Homo sapiens: one gene and its partner. The protein of the gene in region 2 purifies or fractionates together with the protein of the main gene of each other region. This does not show direct contact. Each region holds a gene or a part of one and is shown on either strand. Other genes may lie near its edges.

Region 1 (5,491 bases), on a different chromosome or scaffold from region 2:
CATCATTATATACCAGTACACAAAAATGTATACAAAACCTGTCATAAAAATTGTACAAAAACACAGATAGCTAGGGATTTTAATAATACACATTACAATATTAGCTCAGGAAACCTACTAAGAGCACTATAGTCCAAAGACAGTACTCAAAGTTTACATGGGATTTACACGAAGGCAAACCTAATGTATCCTTTACATGGTATAAATCTCTATCTTAAAAAAAAAAAAAAAAAAAAAAAGCATGGTGATGAGAAGCCAAACTCGGCCAGGCACCATGGTTCATGCCTGTAATCCCAACACAGGTAGGAGCCTTGGGAGGCCGAGGTGGGTGGAGCACTTGAGCCCAGGAGTTCCACAACAGCCTGGGCAACATGGTGCAATCTCATTTCTACAAAAAAATACAAAAATTAGGCATGGTGGCAGACCTGGACTCCCAGCTACATGGAGGCTGAGGGAGGAGGATCAACTGAGCCCGGAGGAAGGTCAAGGCTGCAATTAGTCATGAGCATGCCACTGCACACCAGCTTGGGTGACAGTGAGACCTTGTCCCCCAGAAAAAAAAAAAAAAAAAAAAAAAAAAACTTTAAAAAAAAAGCCAAACTGATGCCATGACTCATGGGTGTGAATTCCAACTCTACCATTTACCAACTTTATGACCTTGGACAAGGTATTTTTTGTGTCTCCATTTCCTCATCTGTAAACTGGGAATAATAACCTTCATGGTGTTTTGTCTTTGTTGTCAAGTTTTTATTTTATAATCATAAAATTAACCATTCAATCTAGCTAGATGTAGAAGGGAATAAGGAAAATATGGAACCCAAAGTACTACAGTGAGAGCACAAAGATTATGGGATATTGCAAACACGTAGAGTGGAAGGTTGCTCTCCTGAGCTACAGAAGGAATAGTCTGGTAGTTAAGATAACACAAAATTCAAATTTATTAGAGTTGTCCACAGTTGGCAATGGTGATCTTCTTGCTCATCTTGCCATTCTTGGACCCAAAGTATTCCATGGCTTCCATGACACTCATACCCTCTCTCTCACCTTTTCCCAAGACCACATGCCTACTATCTAAGCCTTCAGTCTTGGCACTACAGATAAAAAATTGGAAACCATTTGTGTTGGGTCCAGCATTTGCCATGGGCAAGATGCTAGGACCTGTATGCTTCAGGATGAAGTTCACATCATCGGATTTTTCCCCACAGATGGTCATGCCACCAGTGCCATTATGGCATGAAGTCACCACCCTGGCATATAAACTCTGGAATAATTCTGTGAAAGCAAGAACTCTTAAACCAAACCCTTTCTCTCCAGTGCTCAGGACACAAAAGTTTTCTGCTGTCTTTGGAACTTTGCCTGCAAACAGCCCAAAGGAGATGCGGAACTCCTACTTGGCAGCTATGTGGGAGAACATGGAGCTGATAATGGCTGATGGCAGGCGCCTCCAGATGGTAGCAGTGTCTGCAAAGCCATCCTATTTTTATAAGGATTAAATAAGTTAAAATTCCCTGGTACATAAAAAGAAAATATAAAAGTACTATTATTCTAGACATTTTTAAGAAATCATTTTTTACGTCTGTCTCTTCAGAGCATCCCTGGTTTTATAAGATATAAACTATGAGAAAATTTGGAAAGGACACAACATATAATCCTTAGTGTTTACATAAAAATTCCTGTTAATACTTTTGTGAAAACTATCTTCCCTTCCCCACAAAGGAATAAAAGAGCATTATTAAAATGTTCTTGTCTCAAAAAAAAAGGTTCCTCAAACTTTTCCTTTATCAAATGTAAATCACAGCTGCTCTGATGAAATGTTTTTTAATTAAGTCTCTATATAAAGAATGTTCTTAAATGTCAAATCTGCACCAAAATTTAATTACCTTAAAACCATCCATATTTTCTAAGTGCACACTTGTTAAGAACGTTTATTCCCATTATCTGCTTCACCATGTAACTAGCAAGGGAATCTTGGGAGTATGTAACACAAATTACTTGCCTTAGAAAAGACACTGTTTATTCCACATGTGTAAAATTCAGTGAATGACTTTCAGAAAAATCAAAAGAAAGTAAATGTAACATCCATACAGTTGTTTAAGCTTTATTTTTAAATGCATGCATGTTTCAAGGAAACAAAAATTTCAAGATACAGAATACAACATATCAGATTAAATAATTCAGAATTATTTTAATGTATACACAAATAACAATATAAAGCACATACATAAGATACATTATATAATTTGAGGTTTCAAAAAGCAGTAATTTGGTTTTAAAATTCTGACACCAATATCTAATGTAACATTCAAGTAAAACATATTTCAAAAGTTAAGACTCCTGAGACTAACACATAACTCTATGACAGCCTGCCTTTACCACGATCTTCAAAATAGTGCTGTTCAATTCTCCTACAGAAAGCAAGGAGGTTGCTATAGTTTTTCACCTTCTCAGAAAGTTCATCATTTGTCAATTGTGTGGTAAGAATGGTGTATAGATGGCCAAATACCAGTGCGTCAAGTTCAGTAGGCCTAAAAGTAGAAATGAGAGTAATGTGAGTAAGTAGCATTTAACTTTTACAATAGAAAACACAGTTGGCCCTCTTCACCCACAGGTCCCATACTCGTAGGTTCAACTAACCTCAGATCCAAAATATTTTAAAAGATTAGAAATAACAATATAGGCCAAGCATGGTGGCTCATGCCTGTAATCCCAGCACTTTGGGAGGCTGAGGTGGGCGGACTGTTTGAACTCAGGAATTCACAACCAGCCTGAACAATGTGGCAAAACCTCATCTCTACAAAAAATACAAAAATTAGCCAGGCATGGTGGTGCTTGGCTATAGTCCTAGCTACACGGGAGGCTGAGGTGGTAGAATGGCTTAAGCCCGGGAGGTGGAGGTTGCAGTGAGCTGAGATCACACTACTGCATATCATTTAGATTGTGTGTATTGGGTACTATAAGTAATCCAAAGATGATTTAAAATATACGGATGTACATAGATTACATGCAAACACTGCACCATTTTTTCTTTCTTTCTCAATACATTAAGTTTACGTAAGCAATTATGCCATTTTATATAAGAGACTTGAACTCTGCAGATTTTAGTATCTGTGGGGGTCCCGGAACAAATGTCCTGTGGATACTTGAAAGACCCCCGTGGATATGTTTTTTAAAATCATTTTATTCATCAACTTAAAAGAAAAAAGCCACGTAAGAAACAAATCCTACCACAACTTGATATAACTTTTCTTGGAGTTTCTGCTATATGGAAAAAAAATATGATTTGCTAGTTGTGTGACTTGCTTTCTTTAGTAACAACATTTAGGTGTGTTAAAATAATATAGATGTAATGATCATATTCATTTAATTCATTACTTTTCTCACTAAATATAGCAGATCTCCAATGTGCCAGAAACCATACCAAATGCTAGACATAAAAACAAGAAAAATACTCTAAGACATGTACATGAAACATAAATTATAAAGTTGTTTTAATAAATACAATTTATTAAGTGTTTTAATAGATGCATAAACAAAATGCTGTCAAAGCACAAAGGATTTCGCTGTGGTGATAGGACCAAAAAAATGATACCCAATCACAAATCAACAACAAGACACAACTTTAATTTTACCACATTTAAAGTAACTTAGATTTCTGAAGGAGACAAAATCATAAGGATGGCTTCAACATAAAAATTTCTAGGAATTTTTTTCTCTGTAATTATATATTACTAACAACAAAATGAAATCTACCCCACTACTAATGATCTATAAATGGGGCATCACCAATTTACATTATATTAAAATAATTACTAATGCACTATTACTAAAACAAGAAAATGTCATCATAATTACGAGCTAATTATTACTGTGTCCCACAGTGATAAAGTTTTTGAGAAAATATGTGCTAGCCTACATAAATGTGAAAATATGTTGCAGTAATCTGGTTTGGCAGAATAAATTTGGGGGTTGGTAAAAATCCAAATTTGAACTCCAATACTATCACTTACTAGCTATGTGGCCTTGAACCCTATTGATAAGTAGTCTCCTAGAGATGCATGGCTTTAAATACCATCTTGATGCCACTGACTCCTAAATATTTATCTCTGGTCCTAATGTCTCCCCTGAGCTCTGGATTCATACATTCAAATGCCTACATAACATCTCCACTTCAATGTGGAGTATCTGTGGAGCAGGATGTGGAGCATCTTGACTAAGATGTGTGGGATACTTTATTTTCTCAATAGCAGTAATTTACAGTATCCCAAACCTGCTTGTCCCCCAAACTTCCCAAAATAAAAGGCACCACTATCCAACCAGCTGTTCAGGCCAAAAATTTAGGGGCTACTCTTGAGTTCTTTCTTTCACCCTCCTATATCCATTAGCAAGTCTGGTGAGACACTACCTCCAAAATATGCCCTGAATGCCACCACTTATTCTTCATTATGATTTCACAGTGTAACCTACCATCATCTGTCACCTAGACCACTGAGATAGCCTCCTAAAGTGTCTTACTGCTTCTACTCATTCTCCATACCATGGTCAGAATGACTAATGTCAGCAGATCATACCAACTCCAAGCACAAAATATTCTAATGGATTTCTGTTCTACTTATACTAAAATGCCAAACTCCTTACACTAAGCACACAGAGCCTTGATAATCTGGCCTCTGCCTGCCTCTTTAGCCTCATATCCTACCATTCATAGCATACAACCCAAACTGGCCTTGTTTCTTGCATTTGAACGTAACAAACTCAAGCCAATTAGGGAACCTTGACTATAACTATTCCTGCTGCCTAAAATACTCTTCCTCTGACTTCACACTGGCTCCTTATTTTTTAGAATAAGGTTTAAATGGCACATCTTAAAGTCTCCTCAGACCACTCAAATTAAAGTGGACATGTAGTCACTCCTTATCATGTGGTCCTTTTTTAATTCTACATTTGATAATTAATACCATATAATTTTTTTTTTGCTTATTGTGCATCTCCTCTACCAGAAAGTCCTGTAGAGAAAGGACCTCACCTACTTGGTTCCTGCTGTAACCCCAATACCTAGAACAATTCCTTGCACAAAGCAGGAATTGTGCAATAAATTTGTGTTGAATGAACCAATAAAAAGGTGACACACTTCTCATACCATATTATAACTGTGTTCACTTAACTGTTTCCCTCACTACACTCCAAGCTCTTCAAAGGCAATGCTGTATATATCTTTATATTCCCAGTTCTTAGCACAGTATCTAAGGAACTGAAGTAGCACTTGCCGAATAAATACATGAATTAAAAAAGAAAGCATCCTAAGATGTGTGGAATATTTAATTTTCTCAATAGTAGTAACTTACATTCTTTGAAAGCCTTCCACTCTTTTGACATTCATGAAGTGTTAATCAAAGTCAAATGTGCAATCTATGGCCATGTTTAAATGGGTAGCCAACAGTATAGTTTTAAAAAAAAAAATCTCAAGGGTCCTTAGACTCAACAGCACCATAAT
Region 2 (9,407 bases):
TTCTCCTGCCTCAGCCTCCTGAGTAGCTGGGATTACAGGCTCCCACCACCACGTCCAGCTAATTTTTGTATTTTTAGTAGAGATGGGGTTTCACCAGGCTGGCCAGGCTGGTCTCGAACTCCTGACCTCAGGTGATCCATCCGCCTCGGCCTCCCAAAGTGCTGGGATTACAGGCGTGAGCCACCGTGCCCGGCCCTGATTCTTCTTTTTTCTAAGAGTAATGACATCATGGTTGCTTTTAAAAATTATACCTGCTTATCTTTAGATAATCTAAATATTTCAGAAAAGTTTAGGAAAAAAACAACAACCCAAAATGCATCTATCCATACAAATATCCATGTCCACATTTGGATAGAATGTTCTTCTAGACATCTTCACATGCATACACAGAGATAGAAAAACTGATTATGAATAGGCAGATAAGAATGAGATCATAGTATGTGTCTTATTTTTATTTTTTAAAATAAAGTATTAAACTGAATTTTACTTTACAAAAGGAAAAACAAAATAATTGCTGAACTTCAAATAAAAATTTTTCTAATATAAGAGATTAATTTTTAAATGTTCTTCTAGGGTAAATAATAATTGTTACTTTAATTCTTAGAGTTGAAATCCTTGCTTTTCTTTTGACTATAATAATATCAAGTAATATTTTACAAATTCAAATATATGATTTTTTTTTAACCTGAGATCCATGATGGACTTTAGAGAGTCTATAGCACACCCTCCTATCCAAAACTTTATGAAAAGTCACGTATGTACAAGAAAAACCTTCTTATTTGACATAATCAGGACCAGTAGTTAACAATTAATCAAAAATGTTAAAGCAGCGAGTTGTAAAAATATATATAAAAATGTATACCCACAATTTTACTTGAAATTAAAACATAAATGTCTTTCTTCGGCATGACCAATGTGTTGAAACCCCGTCTCTAGTAAAAATACAAAAATTAGCCAGGCCTGGTGGCAGGCGCCTGCAATTCCATCTACTCAGGAGGCTGAGGCACGAGAATCACATGAACCCAGGTGGCGGAGATTGCAGTGAGCCGAGATTGCACCACTGCACTCCAGCCTGGGTGACAGAGTGAGACGCCATCTCTAAAAAAAAAAAAAAAAAAAAAAAAAAATCTTTCCTTTTTCTCTATTTTGAAGTAGGGCTTTTCTTTGAGTATTGGTCTCCTGGTTAAAGATCTATAACATCTTTCCAACAGTAAGCCATATCTGTAGTATGTCTTCTACAATTTCCAGATTAGGTTCTTTTAAAATAGAATGAACAGTTAAAAACATTAAAAAAAATTGAGTGCAGAATCCTTTTAGATGTTTATTTCTCCCAGCTGTTATAATTGTCTTGCTCACCTCTAATTTCATAGCAGTTATTTTTTTAGCCATTCACATTTGAGTCTTTACGAAGCATTTAACTTAATTTTCCTAGAAACAATAATTCTTTTTAAACTCATATTTTATCATATTAAGTTACATTTAGACTGTTTAATTATAAGTAAAACTGATGCAGCAACTTGGGGAAAAAAGGAACTTAATAAGCATACTAATCAACTTGTGAAAGATAGTACCTTAGCATATTGGAGAGCACCTGATAGGGATGAATATTCAACATTCTACAAACATCATTTATAATAAATTAAAAAAACATTTTATTAATCAGTCAAGTCTCCTAAAAGAATGTCAGGTGAGAGCTTTTTAGTGTATCTGTGTTTTTCTGAAGGAAAGGGCCTATAGCTTTTAAGAGCTTCTCCAAGGTATCTGTGATATTAAAAAGTTTAAGAAATGATAAGTCTAGAAGGTCCTTTGAAAAACAAAAGACTCACTCCAGTTACTCATCATTTTGAAAATAGACTTCAAGATGGAATTACTCTTCGCTTTTTATAATTTTCCTCACAATATTTTTATTATTAACTTATGTAAAGAGTAGCAAGTAGTCTGTCTTTGAAAGCTATGAAATATCTAGGAATAGACTTACCAAATAATGTTTTAACGCCTGTTTAAAAGAAAAATAAACTATCAAACTTTACTGAAGGGTATTTTTAAATTTTCACAATATTTAATTGATGAATAAAGATTGAATATATTCAAGGTGTACAACATGATGATTTGACATACATATACATTGTGTAATGATTATTACAATCAAATTAACATATCCATCACCACCCATGCAGCACATTATATACCCAGAACTTGTTCATCTTATGACTGAAAGTTTGTACCCTTTGACCAACATCTCATTTACCTCACTGCTATCCCCTGGCAACCTCCATTCTACTCTCTGCTTCTATTCTGCGTATATGTCCAAAAAAAAAAAAAATGAAATCAGTATCTTGAAGAGATATATGCACCTCCATGTTCATTGCAGCATTATTCACAATAGTCAAGATTAGAAACAACCTAAGTGTCTCTCAGTAGATAAAGGGATAAAGATAATTTGGTACATATATACTACAACAGACTGCTATTTAACCATTAAAAACGGAAATTCTGCCATTTGCAATGGCATGGATAACCCAGAGGACATTATACTCAGTGAAATAAGATAGACACAGAAAGACAAATACTGTTTGATCTCACTTATATGTGAAGGATATTTAACAAAAAATCTTGAATGTCTTTGGGCATATATCCTGTTTCTCGATGAAAGACTAAATGTTGAAATACGGCGAGTATTTCAAAGTCTAGAAATTTAATTCAGTTCTTACAAAAGCTCTGGATTTGAATGGAGTGTGACATTCATTCATCTAGTATTTGTTGTCTGTCTACTGTGTATTGGTTACTATAGTATACACAATAAAATAGATCAAGAGGACAAAAGAGAATATCCAAACAATTATATTGAGTATATTTTTGTACACATGAGGGTAGGGGATTGATACGTGGTACAGGTGGCATTTCAGATCAGTGTGTAATGGAAAGGATGGATTTTTTTTTTCCAAGAAATATGTTGGGATAATTGGCTGTTTGTAGAATTACTCAGACCTTTACCAACTATCATGGGAAAACTAATTCTAGGTGGAATACAGATCTAATCATAAACTAGAATACTATAAAAGGTATGAGAAGAAATAAGAGGAATACCTGTTTAATCTTGAGATAGGAACAGCTTTCTTAAGCAAAATACAATCTAGAAGCCATTAAAGAAAAAGTTGACATATTTGACTACATCAAAATTAATACATTTCTGTAGATTACAATATACCATACACAAAGTTAATGGATACATGAAAAACTTGGAAAACTATTTGTAACATATATGACAAAGTACTAATATCCTTCATGTATTAAGAACTCCTGGCCAGGCGTGGTGGCTCATGCCTGTAATCCCAGCACTTTGGGAAGCCGAGGCAGACGGATCACGAGGTCAGGAGATCGAGACCATCCTGGCTAACACGGTGAAACCCCGTCTCTACTAAAAATACAAAAAATTAGCCGGGCATGGTGGCGTGGGTATGGTGGCGTGCGCCTGTAGTCCCAGCTACTCGGGAAGCTGAGACAGGAGAATGGGCATGAATCTGGGAGGCGGAGCTTGCAGTGAGCTGAGATCACGCCACTGTACTCCAGCCTGGGTGACAGAGAGAGACTCCGTCTCAAAAAAAACAAACAAAAAAAAGAACTCCTATAAATCAATGAGCAAAAGATGAATGTGCCCTCTGGGAAAATGAAAAAAGCAGTCTACAAAATAAGAAACATAAATGGCCTAATATATGTAAGATACTTGATTTCATCAACAAATAAATGCAAATTTGAAAAATCATTTAGATATTGGTTTTTAGCCTTTAAATTTGACAAAGATTTAAAAGACTTATAATATCACTGCTGGTAAATAGGGTAGGAAAACAGACATATACTCTTGGTGGTAGTGTAAATTGCTGCAGTATATTGCTGACTTTCTGGAGAGCAACATGGTAATACTGTCAAAAATTAATATGTGTATACGCTTCAGTGCAGAAATTTCAGCTCTAGGAATTTATCCTGAGGAAATACTATAAGGGTTATGGTCCCAGTTGTATGTATAAGGATGCTAATTTCATCATTGCTTATACTTGCCATCTCCCTACCCCCAAAAAGGAAAACAGCCCATATGCTCACCAACGGGATTTGTTAAATCATCGTGCCTCAATAGGGAATTTGTTAAACAAATTGTGGTGCATACATTATAGAATGCTAAACTAAGCAGCAAATTTAAAAAGTAGATCTACGGTATATAAAGTAATATAGAACCGTGCCTTTGAAATACTGTCAAGCTTTTAAAAAAATCATATCTCAGAATAATATGTGTACTGTGATCTCAAGTATTTGAAAAGGAAAACAAACTAAATACATATGTAATTTATTTTAAAATTTAATTGAAAACATAATTGAGATTGTATTGTATAATCTATTCTGTAACTTTTTCAAATTAGTGGTTCATCATGGACTTCCATTCATGCCAGTACATATAGATCTACTTCATCTTTTTTGAAAGATCTGTAAATATTAATATTACATTTGTTTTAAAATTTGTGTATATATAATGTATAGATGAGTAAAAATTGAGGAAGGATATATGTATAACTGTTAACAAAGGTTATATTTGGGGAGGAAGAGGAATTTCTTTATATTAGTATATTACTTAACTTTTCAACTGTAGGTATATACTTAGTAAAAACAATAAAAATATTTCTATTTGAGGATGGAAACATAATTTTTAAAAAATTTATGTTTGTAGAAATTATAATCCTGAAAAATACCTCAAAACATCTTCAAAACTTGAAAAATCAATGGCTGTTGAAATTACTTTAACTAAAATGAACAAAAGCATTGGAGAAGAATAGGAAAAAGAAGAAATCAGAAGTAGATTTTCAAAGAGAAATAGAGATGAATGAAAATAACGGTAACTTTAGGAATTCAGCCAGCATCCTGGCCTCTGCTTGAGTATATTTATCAGTCATTGTTTATTTTACCTTTCTACCAAAAAAGAATATTATTCTTTGGAGGAATTAGTTGATGCCTTTTATTTCTTTATGAATGGAGAAAGCACCATCAAATTTTAAGCAAAAGCATTAACTTTGTAGCATGTTAAAAATCTCATTTTCTCAGTCAGCAGTTTATTATCTCAAACTATATTCCCCAAACTCCTGTTAATAGACACAGTTTTCACTTATATCAAATCACCGTGTTATATACCTTAAATAGATACAATTTTATATATGTCAATCTAATCTCACTAAAGCTGAAAAAAATTAAAAAAATAGACATAGTTTTAAATTTATGTTACAATGTGAATGCAGATTATACATTTCTTATAACCTTTGCATGACACAAAAAATTTTTCATATAAGATTTTAGAAATGGTGCTTTGTGTTATATGATTTAGAGATTTATATCTTTATTGATTCTGACTTGAGTGTTCATATAAAATACCTGACAAATCTAAAATACATTTTTAATTTTAACTTTTAAAAATATGTTATTTGACTTACTTTTTGTTTTAATTAGGTAACAGCAAAAAAGGTATATGCTACAAGCCAGCAAATTTTTGGAGCAGTTAAATCATTGTGGACAAAAAGCAGCAAAGAAGAGTCACTCCCTAAACCTAAAGAAAAAACTAAGGTAGAGTTTACATGGAGCAAGACGGTCAACATTGAGTTTTGTTTGGGTGGGTGTTGGCTTGTAATGAGGGTACTGGACAGAGGTCGAGGATAAAATGAGAAAGTAGATGAAGGAAATAGTAAAATGATTTACTTATGAAGGAAAAATCTGTTTGGTAAACAGCTAGGATCCTCTTCCGAAATAGAAGTACCTGCAAAAACAACTCACGTCTTGAAACACTCAGTGCCCTTGCCAACAGAACTCAGCTCTGAAGCAAAGACCAAATCAGAATCCACTTCAGGTTTGTTGGGTATAAGTCAATTTTGTTTTCATTCTTTTCTTAAATAATTTGATAGCATTATCATTAGTGGTTTGAACTTAAGATGTGTTCTCCCCATAAATATTTTGTCTTTCTCATATCTGTGGTTTCTGTTTCTTTTTAGGTTATGAGGTACTTAAGTATCTGCAATTGCTTTAAATTATCACATAGTTCATAATATAGATCTTTTAATGTGAGTATATAGAGTAACACTGACAGGTTGATTAGGTGAAGCATTTAATATAACTTTATAAATTTGAGCTATTAGGTGGGGGAAAATGGGCCTTTCTAGATTCTGTAATTTTAAAGGGATGAGTCACACCTACATAAAGAAATGTCAGCTTCCATTTTTTGTGCTATTTACCTATCAGTCTCCCTGTCAATCTTAAGACTTTTATTTTTATTAAGTTTAGTTTTACTAAGTTTAGGCACCAAAAGAACTTTCAGCATCAAATATTAGAAATATTATCCATTATAATACTTATAACATTGCTAGTATTCCATACTGGCAATAAACACTTTGTGGGACCAAGCAGTGACAATTATACTTTCTAAACAAATACTGCTGTGATTTTACTGTGATCAAAAAGAAGGTGACAAAGTGTTTAATACCATTTTGACAATGTATTCATATTGATTTGCATAGGTTTATCTATATAGATACCTATATAGATATCTATATAATTACAATGTGAATTATAAAACCCGCTAAGTTGTCTTATTGCAAAGGAAGGTGGCTAATTCAGCGGTTGGGGAATAATAATAATATGCACCCTTTATCGAGCACATACTGTGATGCAGAGAGCTAGAAGTATATTATGTTATTCAGCCCTTACCCACAAAGCAAAACAAAAACCTCTGCTGGATCGGTAATTATTCCCATTTTATGATGAAGAGACTGAGACTCAGGGAGCTAAAATAAGTTGCCCCAAATCATATAGCTTGTGAGTAGCAGAGTTCTGTTTATGGCCTAGATCTTCTTGACATCAAAGTCTAAGTTCTTTCCATTGTCTATAGATTATCTAATTTAAAACTGGAAGTTAGTCTCTAATTTCAGCCTCCTCCTCTCACTTAATCTTCATAAAAACTGTCATTGAATAACAAACATGATATGAGTTTTACTATTTTCCTCTGTCCTCTCTCTTTTCTAATCAAGAGGAGCTATACAGTTTTTAGACTCTGAATAATCTACCAGTGACCATATTCTCACAAGAATATAATGTATGGTCATTTTTCCACATGCCTTTTAATTCCAGAGTATCTTTATGAAGATGAAACATACTACAGCTTAACAGTGGGACCAAAACCTTTCCAAGCTAATGTCTTTTCCTCACACATCTAGATTCTGGAACCCTTTATTTGCCTGTCTTGGGTGATGTGGTATATGAAAAGCATTCTATGGAGACAATGCAGAGGGAGAAAGAGATGCCAGTGCTACTTACTCATTCTTATCATAGATGTCTTGGTCAGTTTGAGCTGCTGTAAAAAATACCATAGACTGGGTGGCTTATAAACAACAGAAATTTATTTCTCACAGTTCTAGAGACTGAAATTCTGAGATCAGGGTGCCAACATGGTCAGGTTCTGGTGAAGACCCTCTTCTGGCTTGTAGACAGCCTACTTCTCATTGTATTCTCACATGGCAGAGAAGAGAGGGAAGCAGGCTCTCTCAAGATTCATAAGGGCACTACTGATCCCATTCACAAAGGCTGTACCCTCATCACTTCCTCTAATTCTAACCACTTCCTAAAGCTCTCCATCTCCTAATACCATCACAATGGGGGAGATAGGGTCTCAACATGTGAATTTTGGGGGGACACCAACACGCAGTACATAACAATATATCATTTGGCGTTTATTATACAGTATAACCTTGGGATTCACCATTTCCACGTTTCATATGTAGAATAAAACATTTTTTTTTTTTTGGCCATGAGAAACAGTAGTGATTGTGAGCACAGGTTATAGAATAAGACTTGAATCGAAATCCCAGATCCAGCATTTACTAGTTCTGTTACCTGGGGCAAGTTATCAAACACCTCAAGCCTCAGTCTCCTCATTCAACAAAAAGGGGACAATAATAGTTCTCACATGGTTGTGAGGATTAAGTGAGATATTGCATGTAAAGCACTAACTGTAATGCCAGGGACATACTAAGGGGTATCAGTGGATATTAAAATATATCATTATTATTATTTGCCTAGAGCAGTTAGCCATTTTGATGAGAAACAGATTTTCATTGAGCATACTTAAAGAGCAAGTCACTTACCTAGTGAGCCTAGCCATGGCTATAACTTATCACCATACAGAACAGGTAGGGTGTACTGTCCAACTATATGTTGTGGCTCTGAATATGAGTTTGGTTGTTCTCTACCATCTCATGTACATTAATGGAGAAAATTGCTATTTTGGGAATCACAAATTTAGAATTTGGTGTCATAGACCTCTTCAAGAATCTGATGAAAGCAGAATGAAATCTCTCACAGTCTTGCAAGATTAATGTCCCTCTAAAGCAGAAGTTGACAAACTATGGCCTGTATGCCAACTCTGACTATGTTTTTTTTTAGGTGATAAATTTGCTAAACTTATATATATATATATATATATACGTATATATATGTATGTATATATATACGTATATGTATATACACGTATATATATATATACATATATATATATATATACACACACATATATATATATTTTTTTAATTATACTTTAAGTTCTAGGGTACATGTGCACAACATGCAGGTTTGTTACATAGGTATACATGTGCCATTGTTGGTTTGCTGCACCCATTAACTCATCATTTACGTGAGGTATTTCTCCTAATGCTATCCCTCCTCCTGCCCCCCACCCCACAACAGGCCCCTGTGTATGATGTTCCCCACCCTGTGTACAAGTGTTCTCATTGTTCAATTCCCACCTATGAGTGAGGATATACGGTGTTTGGTTTTCTGTCCTTTTGATAGTCTGCTCAGAATGATGGTTTCCAGCTTCATCCATGTCCCTGCAAAGGACATGAACTCATCCTTTTTTATGGCTGCATAGTATTCCATGGTGTATATGTGCCACATTTTCTTAATCCAGTCTATCATTGATGGACATTTGGGTTGGTTCCATGTTTTTGCTATTGTGAATAGTGCCACAATAAACATATGTGTACATGTGTGTTTATAGTAGCATGATTTATAATCCTTTGGGTATATACCCAGTAATGGGATGGCTGGGTCAAATGGTATTTCTAGCTCTAGATCCTTGAGGAATCGCCACACTCTCTTCCAGAATGGTTGAACTAATTTACACTCCCACCAACAGTGTAAAAGCATTCCTATTTCTCCACATCCTCTCCAGCATCTGTTTTTTCTTGACTTTTTAATGATCACCATTCTAACTGGTGTGAGATGGTATCTCATTGTGGTTTTGATTTGCAGTGATGATGAGCATTTTTTCATGTGTCTGTTGACTGCATAAATGTCTTCTTTTGAGAAGTGTCTGTTCATATCCT

What was found. The genes of interacting proteins can lie anywhere in the genome.
Region 1: the proteins of APOOL (region 2) and MTX2 purify together in Homo sapiens (affinity purification with mass spectrometry; 2 studies listed by BioGRID and IntAct, with this or other methods). This does not show direct contact.

The regions. Positions count from the first base shown.
Region 1 is NC_000002.12:176,334,527-176,340,017, reverse strand, and holds the end of MTX2 (metaxin-2), read right to left. Parts: intron 2,526-5,491; coding exon 2,354-2,525; 3' UTR 1,993-2,353; downstream 1-1,992. UniProt on the Homo sapiens protein: Involved in transport of proteins into the mitochondrion.
Region 2 is NC_000023.11:85,068,511-85,077,917, forward strand, and holds part of APOOL (MICOS complex subunit MIC27 precursor), read left to right. Parts: intron 1-5,487; coding exon 5,488-5,601; intron 5,602-5,763; coding exon 5,764-5,881; coding exon of another isoform or gene 5,882-5,890; intron 5,891-9,407. UniProt on the Homo sapiens protein: Component of the MICOS complex, a large protein complex of the mitochondrial inner membrane that plays crucial roles in the maintenance of crista junctions, inner membrane architecture, and formation of contact sites to the outer membrane.